2 separate regions of the Homo sapiens genome follow, and region 2 is linked to region 1. The links come from fine-mapping of genetic effects on plasma protein levels. Region 1 holds a variant in brackets. A gene starts in the other region. All regions are shown on their forward strands.

Region 1 (8,134 bases):
AGAGCCCTTGTGCCTTGAATAAAAAACAAGGTGCCATGTCGTATTGTGCCAGCTTCAGATATGACCCCGCACATTCACAGCTGTGGTGTCCATGGGGAGACCCACCTGCTTGAGGTGAGAGAAGAGTAAAAAGGACTTTATCTTGCAAGTGGGTGCCAGCTCAGCCCCAGTACAATAAAGCAGATTCCTAAAGCTCCCGATCCCAGGCCCTGGCTCCTGGGCAGCATTTCTAGACACACCCTGGGCCAGAAGGGAACCTGCTGCACTGAAAGTAAAGACCCAGTTCTTGCAGGATTCTTCACCTACTGACTAAAGCACCCTTGGGCCTTAAATTAACATCAGTGGTGGCCAGAAAATAGCTGCCACAGGCCTTGGGTGAGACCAAGTACAGTTCCAGTGACGGTGGCCATGGCAGTGCTTGTGTCACCCTTCCCCAAACTCCAAGCAGCTCAGCACAAAGAGAGACTCCATTTGTTTGGAGAAATGTAAGAGGACAAGAGACTGCCTGGTAATACAGGGAATTCTCCCAGATCTTCCCCAAGACTACCAAGGTGATACCTCTACAGAGTCACAACATTACTAGTCTTGGGGTGCCCTCTAATGCATGTATGGCTGCAGTGAGCGAAGACTTAGATGACAACACTTAATTCCCTTTGAATACTTGAAAAACCTTCTCAAGAAGAATGGGAGCCGGATGCAGTGGCTAACGCCTGTAATCCCAACACTCTGAGAGGCCAAGGCGGACAGATCACGAGGTTAGGAGTTCGAGACCAGCCTGACCAACATGGTGAAACACCATATTTACTAAAAATACAAAAATTAGCCAGGCGTGGTGGCACGCACCTGTAATCCCAGCTACTCAGGAGGCTGAGGCAGGAGAATTGCTTGAATCCGGGAGACGGAGGTTGCGGTGAGCAAAGACTGTGCCACTGCACTCCAGCCTGGGCGACAGAGCGAGACTCTGTCTCAAAAACAGAAAAAAAAAAAAAAGAATGCGTACAAACAAAACCAGACTACAAAGAACAGAATACCCAACTCTTCAATGCCCAGACACTGATGAACATCCACAAGCATCAAGGCCATCTGAGAAAACATGACCTCACCAAATGAACTAAAAATAAAGGACACCAGTGACCAATTCCCAAGTGATAAGAGATATGTGAACTTTCAGACAGAATTCAAGCTGAATGCTTTGAGAAAGTTCAACGAAATCCAAGATAATACAGAGAACAAATTCAGAATCCTATAAATTTAAAAAAGAGACTGCAATAATTATTAGTAAAAAGAATCAAGCAGAAATCCCAAAGTGGAAAAATTCAATTGACAAACTGAAAAATGCATCAGTCTCTCAATAGCAGAAATGTATCAAGCAGCAGAAAACATTAGTGAGCTTGAATTCAGGCTATTTGAAAATAAACAACCAAGTTGGGCACGATGACTCACGCTTATAATCCTAGCACTTTAGGATGCCAAGGCGGGCGGATCACCCTGAGGTCAGGAGCTCAAGACCAGCCTGGCAAATATGGCAAAACCCCGTCTTTACTAAAAATACAAAAAGTAGCTGGGCGTGGTGGCACATGCTTGTAATCCCAGCTACTTGGGAGGCTGAGGCAGAAGAATCGCTTGAACCTGGGAGTTGGAGGTTGTAGTGAGCCAAGATGGCACCACTGCACTCCAGGCTGGTAACAGAGCATGACTCTGTCTCAAAAAAAAAAAAAAAAAAAAAAAGTTCTTCAATCTGCAAGAAAAGGATGTTAACAAACAATAATAAATCACCTGAAGGTGCAAAAACTCACTGGTAACAAGTACACAGAAAAATACAGAATATTGTAACACTGTAATTGTGGTGTATAAACTACTACTCATATTTTGAGCAGGAAGAATAAAAAATGAACCTTTCAAAAATAAGAACTACAATTTTTTTTTTTTTTGTGAGACAGAGTCTTGCTCTGCTGCCCAGGCTGGACGGCAGTGGCGCGATCTCGGCTAACTGCAACCTCCGCCTCCCAGGTTCAAGCGATTCTCCTGCCTCAGCCTCCTGAGTAGCTAGGATTACAGGTGCGTGCCACCACGCCTGGCTAATTTTTGTATTTTTAGTAGAGACAGAGTTTCACCACGTTGGTCAGGCTGGTCTCGAACTCCTAACCTTGTGATTCGCCCCACCTTTGCCTTCCAAAGTGCTGGGATTAGGCGTGAGCCACTAGGCCAGGGTTTTGTTTTGTTTTGTATTGTTTTTTGAGACAGTCTTACTCTGTTGCCCAGACTGGAGTGCAGTGGCGCACTCTCGGCTCACTGCAACCTGGGCCTCCTGGGTTCAAGTGATTCTCCTGCCTCAGCCTCCGAGTAGCTGGGATTACAGGCACCCGCCACCATGTCCGGCTAATTTTTCTATTTTTAGTAGAGAGGGGGTTTTGCCATATTGGCTAGGCTGGTCTCGAACTCCTGACCTTAGGTGATCCGCCCACCTCAGCCTCCCAAAGTGCTGGGATTACACACGTGAACCACTGCGCCTGGCTTATAACTACAGTTTTTTAAGACATAGTATAATAAAGATATAAATAAAAACAACAAAAGTTAAAAAGCGGGCAGATGAAGTGTAGAGTTTTTATTAGTTTTCTCTTTGCTTGCTTGTTTTTGCAATCAAAGTTTCAAGTTGTCATTGGTTTAAAATAATGGGTTATAAAATGTTATTTGCAACCCTTATGTGATCTCTTTTTTTTTTTTTTTTTTGAGACGGAGTCTCACTCTGTCGCCCAGGCTGGGGTGCAGTGGCACAATATTGACTCACTGCAACCTCTGCCTCCTGGGTTCAAGCAATTCTCCTGCCTCAGCCTCCTGAGTATCTGAGATTACAGGCACGTGCCTCCACGCCTGGCTAAGTTTTGTATTTTTAGTAGAGATGGGGTTTCACCATGTTAGCCAGGCTGGTCTCAATCTCCTGACCTCTTGATCCACCCACCTCGGCCTCCCAAAGTGCTGGGATTACAGGTGTGAACCACTGCACCCAGCTGTCATGGTGATCTTAAATCAAAAACACCTACAACAGATACACAAAAAATATAAAGCAGGAAATTAAAACATACCACCAGAGAAAATCACTTTCAAAACAAGGAAGGGAGGGAGGGAAAAAAGGAGCGAAGAGGAAGTAAAAAAGAAGGGGGAAGGGAGGGAGTAGGACTACAAAACAACCAGATAATAAGTAACAAAATGGTAGTAGTTAAGTCCTCACTAATCAGTAACAACACTGAATGTAAATCGACTAAACTCTCCAATCAAAAGATA[C/T]AGAGTGGCTAAATGGATTTAAAAAAAAGGCTGGGTGCGGTGGCTCACGCCTGTAATCCCAGGACTTTGGGAGGCCAAGGCAGGCAAATCACCTGAGGTTAGGAGTTCAAGAACAGCCTGACGAACATACTGAAACCCCATCTCTACTGAAAATACAAAAAATTTAGCTGGGCTTGGTGGCAGGCGCCTGTAATCCCAGCTACTTGGGAGGCTGAGGCAGGAGAATCGCTTGAACTCAGGAGGCGGAGGTTGCAGTGAGCTGAGATAGCGCCATTGCCCTCCAGCCTGGGCAACAATAGCAAAACTCTGTCTCAAAAAAAAAAAAAAAAAAACCAAAGATCCATTGCCTACAAGAAACACACTTTACCTATAAAATCACACATAGACTAAAATTGAAGAGCTGGAAAACAATATTCCATGCAAATGGAAACCAGAAAAGAACAGGAGTAGCTATGCTTAGATAAAATAGATTTTGAGACAAAGTCTATAAAAACAGACAAAGAAGATTATTGTATAATGATAAAGGGATCAATTCGGCAAGAGGTTATAACAAGTATAAATACATATGCAACCAATACTGGAGCATCCAGATATATAAAGCAAACATTATTAGAGCAAAAAAGAGAAACAGACCTCAGTAACAGTCGGAAACTTCAACACCCCACTCTCAGCAATGGACAGATCATTCAGACAGAAAATCAACAAAGAAACATTAGACCTAATTTGCTCTATAGACCAAATAGGCCCAATACATATTTACAGAACATTGTGTCCAACAGCTATAGAATACACATTCTTCTCCTCAACATATGGATTGCTCTCAAAGATAGACCCTATGTTAAGCCACAAAACAAGTCTAAAGATTTGACGTGGCACAGTGGCTCATGTCTGTAATCCCAGCACCTTGGGAGGCCGAAATAGGTGGATTGCTTGAGCTCAGGAGTTCGAAACAACCCTGGGACACATCGCAAAGCCCCATCTCTACAAAAAAAAAAAAAATCCAAAAATATCAGCCATATGTGACGGCATGTGCCTGTAGTCCCAGCTACTTGGAAGGCTAAGGTGGGAGGATTGCTTGAGCCAGGAAGGCGGAGGTTGCAGGTGAGCCAAGATCATGACATGTACTCCAGCCTGGGTAACAGAGTGAGACTCTGTTACAAACAAACAAACAAACAAACAAATAAATAAATAAAAATTCAAAAAAGTTAAAATCATATCAACTATCTTCTCTGATCACAATAAGATAACACTAGAGGCCGGGCACGGTGGCTCATGCCTGTAATTCCAGCACTTTAGGAGGCCAAGGTGGGTGGATCATCTGAGGTCAGGAGTTCGAGATCAGCTTGACCAACATGGTGAAACCCCCTCTCTACTAAAAATACAAAAAAAAATTAGCCAGGAGTGGTGGTACATGCCTGTAATCCCAGCTACTCAGGAGGCTGAGGCAGAAGAATCACTTGAACTGGGGAGGCAGAGGTTGCAGTAAGCCGAGATCGCGCCACTACACTCCAGCATGGGTGACAGAGCGAGACTCCATCTCAAAAAAACAAAAATAAAAATAAAATAAAATAACACTAGATAACAAGAGGAACTTTGGAAAGTATACAAATACATGAAAATTAAGCAATATGCTCCTGAATGACCAGTGGGTCCATGAAGAAATTAAGAAGAAAACTGGAAAATTCCTTGAAACAAATGAAAATGGAAACACAGCTTATCAAAACCTATAGGATACAGTAAAAGCAACAATAAGAGGAATGTTTACAGCAGTAAGTGCCTACATCAAAAAAGTGGAAAAACTTCATCTGCCAATACATCCTAAAGAACTAGAAAAGCAAGGACAAAACCTAAAATCAGTAGAAGAAATAAAAAAAATCAAAGCAGAAATAAATAAAATTGAAATGAAGAAAATACAAAAGATCAATAAAACAGTAAATTGTTTTGAAGAGATAAACAAAACTGACAAACCTTTAGCCAGACTCAGAAAAAAAAGAGAAAACCCAAATAATAAAATGAGAGATGAAAAAGGAGACATTATAATTGTTACCACCGAAATTCAAAGGATCATTAGAGACTACTATGAGCATCTATATGCTGATACATTGGAAAACCTTGAAGAAATGGATAAATTCCTAGACACATACAACCTACCAAGACTGAACCACAAAGAAATCCAAAACCCAAATACAATAACAAGTAACGAGACCAATAACAAGTAACGAGATCAAAGCTATAAGAAATAGTCTCCCAGCAAAGAAAAGCCATGGACCTGATGGCTTCACTGCTGAATTCTACTAAACCTTTAAAGAAGAACTAATACCAATCCTACTCAAACTATTCCAACACAATACAGGAAGAGGGAATACTTCTAAACTCATTCTACAAGGCCACTATTACCCTATACAAAACCAAAGGACACATCAAAAAGGGAAAACTAGAAGCCAGTGTCTCTGAAGAACATTATGCAAAAATCCTCAATATAATACTAGCAAACCGAATTCAGTAACACATTAAAAAGATCATTCATCATGACTAAGTGGGATTCATCCCAGGGATGCAAGGATGGTTCGACATACGCAAATCAATAAACATGGTACATCTTAACAGAATAAAAGACAAAGACTAAAAAATATATATATATATTATTTATACTGTGTATGATATAAATATATATCACATGATATAAATATATAATTTATATCACATAAAATGCCACATCCCCTTATGATTAAAACCCTTGGCCGGGCGTGGTGGCTCACGCCTGTAATCCCAGCACTTTGGGAGGCTGAGACGGGCAGATCATGAGGTCAGGAGTTCGAGACCATCCTGGCTAACACGGTGAAACCCCGTCTCTACTAAAAATACAAAAAATTAGCCGGGCGTGTTAGCGGACACCTGTAGTCCCAGCTACTCGGGAGGCTGAGGCAGGAGAACGGCATGAACCCAGGAGGTGGAGCTTGCAGTGAGCCAACATTGCGCCACTGCACTCCAGCCTGGGTGACAGAGTGAGACTCCATCTCAAAAACAAACAAACAAAAAAACCCCAAAGAACTGGGTATAGAAGGAATATACCTCAACAAAACAGAAGCCATATATGACAGACCCATAACTAGTACCATACTGAAAAGGGAAAAACTGAAAGGCTTTCCTCTAAGATCTGGAACAAGACAAGGATGCCCACTTTCACCATTGTTATTCAACATAATACTCGGAAGTCCTAATTGGAGCAATCAGACAACAGAAAGAAATAAAAAGCATCCACACTGGAATGGAAGAAGTCAAATTATCCTTGTTTGCAGATAATATGATCTTACATTTGGAAAAACCTAGACTCCAAAAAAGAAAAACCTATTAGAACTGACAAACAAATTCAGTAAAATTGCAGGATACAAAAATCAACACACAAAAATCAGGAGCATTTTTATATTTAACAGCAAACAATCTGAAAAATTTTTTAAACGCAATCCCATTTACAATAGCTACAAATATAATAAAATACTTAGGAATAAACTTAACCAAATGAGTAAAAGATTTCTATAATGACAACTTTAAAACACTGAAATTGATGACACAGAAAAAACATGAAAAGAGATTCCATGTTTATGGATTAGAAGAATTAATATTGCTAAAATGTTGATAATACTCAAAGCAATCTACAGATTCAGTGCAATCCCTATCAAAATACCAATGACATTCCTCACAGAAGTAGACAAAAATAATTCTAAAATTTGTAGGGAACCACAAAAGGCCCAAAAGAGCAAAAGCCATACTGAGCAAAATGAACAAAACGGGAGGAATCATTATCTGACTTCAAATTATTGTAACCAAAATGGCATGGTACTGGCATAAAAAAAGATATAGATCAATGAAACAGAACAGAGAACTCAGAAATGAATCCATACGTCTAAGTGAACTCATTTTCCACAAAGAAGCCATGAACATACACTGGGGAAAGGACAGTCTCTTCAATAAATGGTGCTGGGAAAACTGGATATCCATATGCAGAAGAATGAAACCAGACCCCTGTGTCCCACCATATTAAAAAAAAATCAAATCAAAATGGACTAAAGATTTAAATCTAAGACCTCAAACTATGAAACTACTAAAAGAAAACATTAAACTCCCAGGGACATTACTCTGGGCAAAGATTTCTTGAGTAATACCCCAAAAGTACAGGCAACCAAAGCAAAGATGGACAAATGGGATCACATCAAGTTAAAAAGCTTCTGCACAGCAAAGGAAACCATCAACAAAGTGAAGAGACAGCCCACAGAATGGGAGAAAATATTTGCAAACTACTCATCTGACAAGGGATCAATAACCAGAATATAAAAGGCACTCAAGCAACTCCATAGGGAAAATTTTAGTAACTCAATTAAAAATGGGCAAAAGATCTGAATAGACATTTCTCAAAAGACGACATACAGGCTGGGCGCAGCAGCTCACGCCTGTAATCCTAGCACTTTGGGAGGCTGAGGCAGGTAAATCACCTGAGGTTAGGAGTTCAAGACCAGCCTGGGCAACAAGGAGAAATCCCGTCTCTACTAAAAATACAAAAATTAGGCAGACATGGTGGCAGGAGGCAGGAGAATTGCTTGAATCCGGGAGGTGTAGGGCGCAGTGAGCCAAGATCACACCACTACGCTCCAGCCTGGGCAACAAAGTGAGACTCTGTCTCAAAAACAAAACAAAACAAAAAAAAAAGGAAGACATACAAGGCCAGGTGCAGTGGCTCACAACTATAATTTCAGCATTTTGGGAAGCCAAGGTGGGAGGATTGCTTGAGCCCAGGAGTTCGAGACCAGCCTGGGCCAAACAGCAAGACCTCATCGTTATTTATGAATGGCAAACA
Region 2 (8,134 bases), not on the chromosome of region 1:
GTAAACGCGGTTTACTTACCCGGGTAATCGCGGCAGCAGCGCGTCGTGTGAACCCGGCAGCAGCGCGCGTCCGTTCCCGTCCCAAGCAGGAGGCGCCCAGGGCCGCACCCGGGACCCCCGGTGGGGCGCTGACCCAGGCTGAGCGCGCACAGCAGCGCCAGGCCGCACAGGGCCCGAAACGCGCCCATCGCCCCGTGCTGTGCCATGCTCGGGTTTCAAGAGCCCACAGCCAGTTGGACACGCCCCGTCCCCGTCCTCACCCGCCCTGCCCGGAGGTGGCTGGGACCGTTCATGACCTGAGAATCCCGACCCAGGTGAAGTGCGTGTGAGGAGGGGGTGTAGACACTGCGGACACAGCCCGGTCCCCCGCAGGTCGCCGGCAGGGGCGGGGAAACCAGGCTGGCGGGGATCAGAAAGGTTTTCTATGCAAAGTCTGCGGCCACATTGGTGTCCCCAGTGCAGGGGGCGGCGTTTATAGCACCTTGTCCCATGGGGGCCCCTTGGAGGGCGGGGGTCAGCCAATCACTCCTCCATCCCACTGCCTCCGGGTGGTATCTGCGAGTCCCCGAGAGGTCTCCACAAATTCTGGCCACCCCCAGAGAGCCTCAACCATGGAGCCCCGTGCTGGGGAACCCCACAGAATGGGGACAGGGACCCCTCGGCTCAGCACACCCCACCTGGCTGGCTTCAGGTGTGAAACTCACCATGGGCTGCAGGCCTGTGGGCTCCCCTCCCCCTTGCTTGCAGCTCTCCAGGACCCCCCTCAGGCCAACCTGGGAAGTTCCCCGGGGCTTGGGAGGGGCACCAGGAGGAGCTGGTGGGGAGACGAGAGGGTGCTGGCGCCTCCTCGGGACAGTGTCAGCCGCCCCCGCGGGCACCCAGGGCCCGGTCTCTCAGAGCCACCTTCATCCGTCACACCAGACAGATCCAGGTCCCGGAGGGAGTTGAGGAGGAGCCCCTCGCAGAGCTCTTGGGAGACTGTCCTATGTCTTTCTGAGCCTCAGTTTCCCCTGTGGGCACCGAGGGGTTCTGGGACCCTGCCTCCACCAGGAAGCCTCCCTGGATTGCCCAGCCCTGCTTCTGCGCCGTCCAGCACAGGTGGAGACCCCCATGAATGCTGGGGGTGGGGGCTCTCGGGAACGTGAGCGTGGATGTGGTTCAACACCCTTTTGAGACCTGCAGCCACCGCCTCACCCCGTAAGGCGGTTCCTCCTTTTCCAAGGTAAATGACAGGAATTAGCTGTTTGTGACACCCCGGAGTTCTCAAATCCAAGATGTAGGAGCCTGCCTTGGAGAGGCAGCCCTCAGACACTGCAGAGAAGGAAGGGGTCTCTGCAGCTCCAGGCCGCCCCGACGCTCGGAAGGAAAGGGGTGGGGCCAGCTGGGCCTGGGGGCCTTTGAGAGGCCTGGAGATCTTCAGCCCCGAGGCTGGGAGGGGGTCTGGGCCCCTGGATAGAAAGAGGCGCCATCAGTGGCTCACGCCCGTAATCCCAGCATTTTGGGAGGCCGAGGTGGGCCTCGGATCACCTGAGGTCAGGGGTTCGAGACCAGCCTGACCCACATGGAGAAAGCCCGTCTCTACTAAAAATACAAAAAAAATTAGCCAGGCGTGGTGGCGCACGCCTGTAATCCCAGCTACTCGGGAGGCTGAGGCAGGAGAATTGCTTGAACCTGGGAGGCAGAGGTTGCGGCGAACCAAGATGGCACCATTGCACTCCAGCCTGGGTGACAGAGCGAGACTCCATCACAAAAAATAAAGAATGCTCATCAGACCACACGGTGTGAGTCATCCATCTAGAGGCAGGGACAGAGTTAGAGGAGCGAGCAGTTTATGGGGCCAAGTGGGAGGCGGCCAGCGGGCAGAGGAGCCCCTCCCCCCCGCCCCGTGGCGCAGCTGACACTTTGAACAGCCGGAGAGCAGCTTGCCACACAGGGTGGTCCCCGGAGGGGCTGCAGGGGTGTGACGTCCACCCTCCCATCCCTCTCGCCGCAGAAGGCCCCTCCCCGGCTCCCCGTGACTCCTATCCTTGGGCTGCGAGGCTGGAGGTGACTTGTTCATCTTATTGAGCAGCTCACCGGTGACACAAATGACGGGGCATTCACACAGCAGAGCAGCCCACGGGCCGGGCGAGGGACAGCCCTTGCGTACGTCCAGAAGGGCAGCTGTGAGGCCCCACGGGGAGGGTGCAGATGGGCACTGAGCCAGAGTTCAGGCAGGGCCTTCGGCACAGATGGCACAGGAGTTGCCAGCAGAGATGGCGTCAGGCGAGGGGGCGGGGAGGGTGAGCATGGAGACCAAGAGGAGGTGGCCCCGTGTCCATCTGGGGGTGCGGCAAGGGGTCCTGCTGGGGAATAAGTCCCACGGGGCCTGGGGGGTGCTGTGCCCAGAGGGGAGGAGACAGGAAGCGATGGGTATGGGCGCCAGGTTTGGGGAGGAGGCCCCTTTCCCATAGCCGTCGACCTGCGGGCCCCACAGGATCTGGCCGCTCCAGTCCCGGCCACCTGACCCCTTCCCCCACCCACCCGCCATCCTGCCTGGAGGTCTGGCCTCGCCTGCCCCACGGGGCGGGGGGCGGGGGGCTCTCAGAGGCGCGGCCCCAACCCTGTGCAGGGCCTGCAGGCTGAACCGTGTGCAGGAACCCGGGGAACTCGGTGAAGGTGCTGGATGGGGGACAGGACGGCCTCTGACTTCCCTATGCTGCGGGGGGGGAGGCTTGTGGTTAGCAGAGAGTGGGTGGAAGACAGAGGTTTGAGGAGAGAGAGACCCAGGGGAGAAAACCAGCTGCAGAGGCAGGAGGGGTCCAGGGCAGCCCGAGGCCAGAGATGGGCGTCTTCCTTACAGCCACCTGTGGTCCCGGCACCTTGGGCTGTTGTGAGTGGCGCGTGGCGCTCCCACTGTGCACCCCCGGGGCCGGTTCCCCACTTCCACGACACCGGCAGGGGGGAGCCATCCGCCAGGCACAGGAGGCCTGGACAGCCGTGGGCAGCGTGCGCTGTTGGAGGACGCAGGGAGAGGGAAGGCTGGCCCAGGGACGCTGTGTGGGGCAGCGGGTGCAGCTGCGGGGCTGGGCCACACCAGCCACGGTAGCCGGAGTGTCCAGGCTGTGCCAGGCCCTCAGCAAAACCTTCCATGAGGCTTCATGTGTTTCTTCTTAAGTAATTTTTTTAAATTTCTTTTTTTTTTTCCAGTCACGTCTCACTGCAGCCTCCATCTCTTGGGCTCAAGTGATCCTCCCACCTCGGCCTCCCAAGTAGCCGGGACCACAGGCATGCACCACCACACCCGGCTGATTTTTTCTATTTTTCATAGAAAAGGGTCTTGCCATGTTACCCAGGCGGGTCTCAAACTCCTGAGCTCAGACGATCGTCTGGCCTCAGCCTCCCAAAGTGCTAGGATTCTAGGCGTGAGCCACCGTGACCGGCCTCGGCTGTGTGTTTCTTGCTCATGAGTGCAGTGAGGGCCAGGCGTGGTGGCTCACACCTGGAATCGCAGTACTCCAGGGCACCGAGGCAGGTGGATCACCTGAGGTCAGGAGTTCAAGACCAGCTTAGCCAACATGGTGAAACCCTGTCTCTAATAAAATACAAAAATTAGCCGGGTGTGGTGCTGGGCGCCTGTAGTCCCAGCTACTTGGGAGGCTGAGGCAGGAGAATGGCGTGAACCCGGGAGGCAGAGGTTGGTGAGCTGAGATCACACCACTGCACTCCAGCCTGGGTGACACAGCAAGACTCCGGCAAAAAAAAAAAAAGAAAGAAAAAACAAGTGCAGTGAGACGTCTTAGCCCTCGGGAGTGTTTCTCTTCAGCCCCTGACACCATGGAGGCGAACAGGCACCTCCGCCTCCCGAGGGACACAGATGTCGCTTAGACGCCCGGGGTGTCTTCCCTGCGGGAAGCCTGCAGGGCTGCTCCCGCCTTGTTCCCGAGCTGTGGCCTCGGGCGTGACTGGCGCTCGGGAGCAGGCTCTGTGCTGCTCGAAGGATACCCCACTCCCAGACACCAGCTTGAGAAGATTCCCGCACGGCCGGGGACGGCCCCAGGGCCTTGGGAGCGTCTGTGGACACCTGTGGTGTGGGCCGAGGAGCTGGGAGCTCATCTGAACACGCCAGCACTCGCGCATCCACGCTGCTGGCGGATGCCTGGGTTTCTCCACTGTGGGGCCACGTTACATGAAGTCGCTGTGGTCATTCTCATTCAGATCCCAGGACTCTTAAGTGCGCAGGAGTGGGACGGCCGGGGCCCAGGGTGGACAGAAAGTTGGCTCAAGCAGAAACTGTGGTTTCCAAGGTGACTGTCCCCCTGGACACCTATGGCAGGGACATAGGGGCCGTGTGGGCCCTTTGCAGGGACTCCTCGGGGTGCTCAGGGGCCCTGGGACCCCCTTCCAGGTGCAGCAAGGGGTGGGCGTAGGTGTGGAGGGGAAGAGGGGCAGGTCTCTACACTCCTCCTCCAAGGACACAGAGCCCCGGGGGTCAGCCACTCCCAAGCTCCTTGGGCAACCCGGGGCTCAGGGGCCAGCTGCCCTTGTCAGCGCCTGGCCAGGAACCTCCACCCCAGGCAGCCTTGGGCCTGAGCTTTCCCAGTCTCTCCCCCCGCTCCCCACTCAATCTGGAACTCGCACCCAGGGACCAACCTCCAGGGTCCCACTTGACCCCGCTACCCTCACCTCCACCCTGGCCCAAGACCCCTCTCCAGCCACAGGTTGGCACAGCCCAAGTCTCCCAAGACCCCTCTCCAGCCACAGGTTGGCACGGCCCAAGTCTCCCAAGACCCCTTTCCAGCCACAGGTTGGCACGGCCCAAGTCTCCCAAGACCCCTCTCCAGCCAGAGGCGGGCACGGCCCAAGCCTCCCAAGACCCCTGTCCAGCCAGAGGCGGGCACGGCCCAAGCCTCCCAAGACCCCTCTCCAGTCAGAGGCGGGCACGGCCCAAGCCTCCATGCCACAGGTGTGCAGCCCACAGTGCCGGTCGGAGACTCCCGTCTGCCAAGGTTTTTATTGTGGTCCCGCGGGGCAGGAGGTATGCATGGCATACGTAAGCAGAGAGCCGGAGGCAGCCATCGGCACCTAGAACGGTGCAGAGTTGGCCCAGGAGCGTGGCGGGGCAGGCGGCCTGCACCTGCCCTGCTCGCCCAGCAGACCCTCCGGGCTCCAGCCTGGCGGGGCCCAGCGTCCACCTTGGTGGGCCCAGGTCAGATCTTGGCCAGGGTGGAGTGGGCGTCGGCCTGCTCCTCTTGGATGGGGGTCCGGAAACTGCCTCCCCCTGGGGAGGAAAAAAGGAGAGATTGGTGGGTGGGCCTCACCCGCCAGGAGCAGTGCGGCAGGGCCATGAGGCACTCACCAGGGGGCTTGTGGGCATCGGGGGGCAGCCTCTGGTCCCTCCGGAGCAGGTACAGGGCCAGCAGGATGGCCAGGGGGCCCAGCAGCCCCAGCACCAGGCCCAGGCCCAGGATGGCGGCAACCGCACGGCCTGCAGGAAGGGGTCTGCTGGGTGGGGTCCACAGGAGGGGCCCCCATGCCGCCCTCCCCTTCTCCTATTCGGGTTGGGGGCCCCGCTGGGCTGGGCCAGGCGCCCTTACCCCCGGGGACCTCCACGGGCCGGGTGGAGGGTCCCTGTGAGGTTCTGGGCCAGGCTTCAGTGGGCTGGACAGTGATGGGCCTGGCCGGGGGGCCCTGGGTCTCCTGGGGCTGCGTGGCTGGGGGGTCCCTGTCCTCACAGATTGCGTCCGAGCTATTGCTGGCCGGCTGCAGGGTGTGCTTCCCAGCCAAGGTGCAGCTGTTGGGGAACAGGAGGTGTTGCTCAGGCCAGAAACCCCCTGGGACCCGGGAGATGCGGTGGGGATAACAGGGTCCACGCTGGCCAGCCACAGGCAGCATCTACCACAGACACCAGGCCAGTGACAGCCAAGGACGCTGCCCAGCCCCACGTGCCCCCCACAGGGGCCTCCAAGGCCACACACCCTTCTCCCACATCTACACCCCCCACCAGCACCTCCCTGTCCTGTGCCCCCAGGGCCTCCCAGCTGCGGAGGGTGAGGGTCCCACACACCCAGCTCCACCCACAGGGAAAGGCTGCCCCCAGGCAGCAGCTTCCTGCTCCCCAACCAGGTCCAGCCACATAGCCAGGCCCCCAGGGCCACCAGCACCTCCCCTTCCCCCAAAACTGCCCCCACCCCACCTGCCCCCCCAGCCCCTCCCAGCTCCCCAGCTCCTCCGCCCTCCTAACCACCCCAACCCCCCCCCAGCCCCTCCCAGCCCCTGGCCAGGCCCCTCACTTGGTCCAGGGCTTGCAGGCCTGGTTGTCGCCTGGGGAGAAGTGCCCTGGAGGGCAGGGGGCACAGTCTGCAACAAAGATAGGGTGGTCAGGGGCTGCCCACAGGCCCCGGGTGCTGGGGACATGGGGCAGAGCCTGTGGGGCAGGCACTTGCCCCCCATGGCTGGGTGGTGGGTTTGGCCTCTGGAAGCCCTCCCTGCCCACATCCCACCCGTGGGCCCTGACCCGGGAGCTCGGTCTTGAGGATGCCAGAGGAGGCACCGGTGGGGCCAGGTCCCTGCGGCCCACGGCCCATCTGCGTCACAGACAGCCGCTATGCACACCCCCAACCGCCGGCCGCAGCCACCGAGCTCACCAACTCCAGGCTTGTAGCTGTCCAGGGGCTGGGTGCCCGCCCGGCAGCGGCAGACTGTGTCCTGTGTGGCCGTGCACAGCTGCTTCCGCTCACTCCCACTTCCTGAGCAGGGGCCGGATGGGGGGGTGGTCAGGTGGGGGCTGTGGACAGGGTCCTCAGGAAGCGTGGGCACTGGAGGACAGGTTGGCCTCCCCACCACACAGAGGGCCGTGGGCAGGGGTCTGCGGCCTCCCCTGAGACTTGGAGCCCCTGCAGCCCCCGAGGCTCCTGGGCCCTCCCTTCCTGGCCACAACCTGGGGCTGGTTCCGTGGCAGCCCCAGCCACCCTTCCCTACCCCTCCACCGCCTCCAGCCGCCAGCCCCGCCTGCGGCAGGGTCTCCATGGCCCAACCCCCCAGCCTCACTGCTCAGGCCAGCAAGGCCAGGCCACATGGCCAGCGTGGTCTCCCCGACTCCACGTGGCCTGGGCCGAGTCTGGGCCCCCGGAGGGAGAGGGGGTGCCCCTGGGAGACGCCTCAGCTCCTCGAAGGACCCCTGTGGCGGAGCAGACCCCGCTGTGGTTTGAGGTTCGTTTCTGCGGCTGTGGGAGCCCCATGCTGCTGCGTGGGAATGTGGGTGCCAGGCTGCCGCCCCCTGTGCTGGGTGGGGCTGTGGGGCCAGGTGGGAGCTCACTGAGGTTACACCACGTGCAGGGCTTGCACGGCTTGGAGCTGACCACGTCGTTGTAGAAGCCCGGCCCGCACGGACGGCACACCGTGTTCTGGGAGCGGCTGCAGCGGCTCACCATCCCGTTGCCTGCAGCAGAGGCCGGCGTCAGGCAGCGGTCAGGCCCCAGGCTTGCGCCCGTGGACCCCCCCAGGCGGCTCCTCTGCCAGGCTTGGCCGGCCCCTCACCCGCCCCCTCCCCAGGACCAGCCTCCTGGCTGGCCCATCCCTGCCCCAGCCCCCAGTCCCTGGAGTGCCCGTGCGTGGCGACCCCTCCTGAGGCCTCACCTGGCCTGCACTCGTGGCAGCACCGGTCGTTGCTGGGGTAGGTGTCCCCGACACAGTGGAGCCCCGTCACGGTGCTCAGCCCCAGGCCCAGGAGGAGCAGAGCCGCACACGGCCCGCGGCCCAGCCGCCGAGCCCCCACGCACATCCTCGTCTCTGCTGTCGCCAGAGTCTGGGTTTTCCTTGCGGGGTGTGGCTATAAGGACTGTGGAGGAGGGGAGGGGAGAGGGGAGGAGGGCAGAGGAGGCGGGAGGAGGAAGGTGGCAGGCCGGGGACCCTGGCTGTGGGCTGGGCACAAAGGCGGGGTCTGGGCACCCCCAGCATTGGCTTATTCTGCCTTCTGACCTCTTCTGCCCAAGACCACCGTGTTCAGACCCCAGGGCACAGTAGGGCCTGGCCTGCGGCTCGACCCTCAGCAAAAAGGTCCATGGAGCACGTGGGTAAACTGAGGCAGCACTGAGTCAGGAGAGGCAACTCCTCAGTCTGGACCTTCAGGGCTGTGGCACTGCTGAAGCATGGT

Direction of the effects. Positions count from the first base shown, and alleles are read on the strand shown. Strength reflects both the effect of a copy and how common the allele is.
With allele T in place of C in region 1, the plasma level of the protein whose gene starts at base 7,788 in region 2 is lower (moderate association).

What was found. A credible set is the group of variants that fine-mapping cannot tell apart. PIP is the posterior inclusion probability: the model's chance that the variant is causal. Protein levels are from antibody-based Olink assays in UK Biobank. Linkage for the fine-mapping came from a reference panel and not from the study's own genotypes, which makes the PIPs less certain.
Region 2: TNFRSF4 starts here. The variant in region 1 is the best candidate, but not a certain one, in a credible set for the plasma level of the TNFRSF4 protein (UK Biobank, PIP 0.54).

The regions. Positions count from the first base shown.
Region 1 is chr12:111,491,714-111,499,847 of GRCh38, forward strand. The region is part of intron 14 of ATXN2 (ataxin 2); the gene reads right to left. Among named protein-coding and RNA genes, the nearest start is that of SH2B3, 90 kb to the left of the region's middle. The variant C/T (reference allele first, on the strand shown) is at 3,283.
Region 2 is chr1:1,206,366-1,214,499 of GRCh38, forward strand. TNFRSF4 (TNF receptor superfamily member 4) reads right to left here and starts at 7,788. Exons shown (of 7, transcript NM_003327.4): 1 at 7,618-7,788; 2 at 7,298-7,420; 3 at 6,627-6,728; 4 at 6,273-6,339; 5 at 5,577-5,773; 6 at 5,339-5,467; 7 at 4,975-5,260. The coding sequence starts at 7,762. The coding sequence ends at 5,190. It overlaps TNFRSF18 (TNF receptor superfamily member 18), which reads right to left and starts at 227. Exons shown (of 5, transcript NM_004195.3): 1 at 20-227. The coding sequence starts at 206. RefSeq lists an enhancer at 1,807-2,686 and silencers at 1,883-1,972, 2,553-2,662, 6,866-6,915.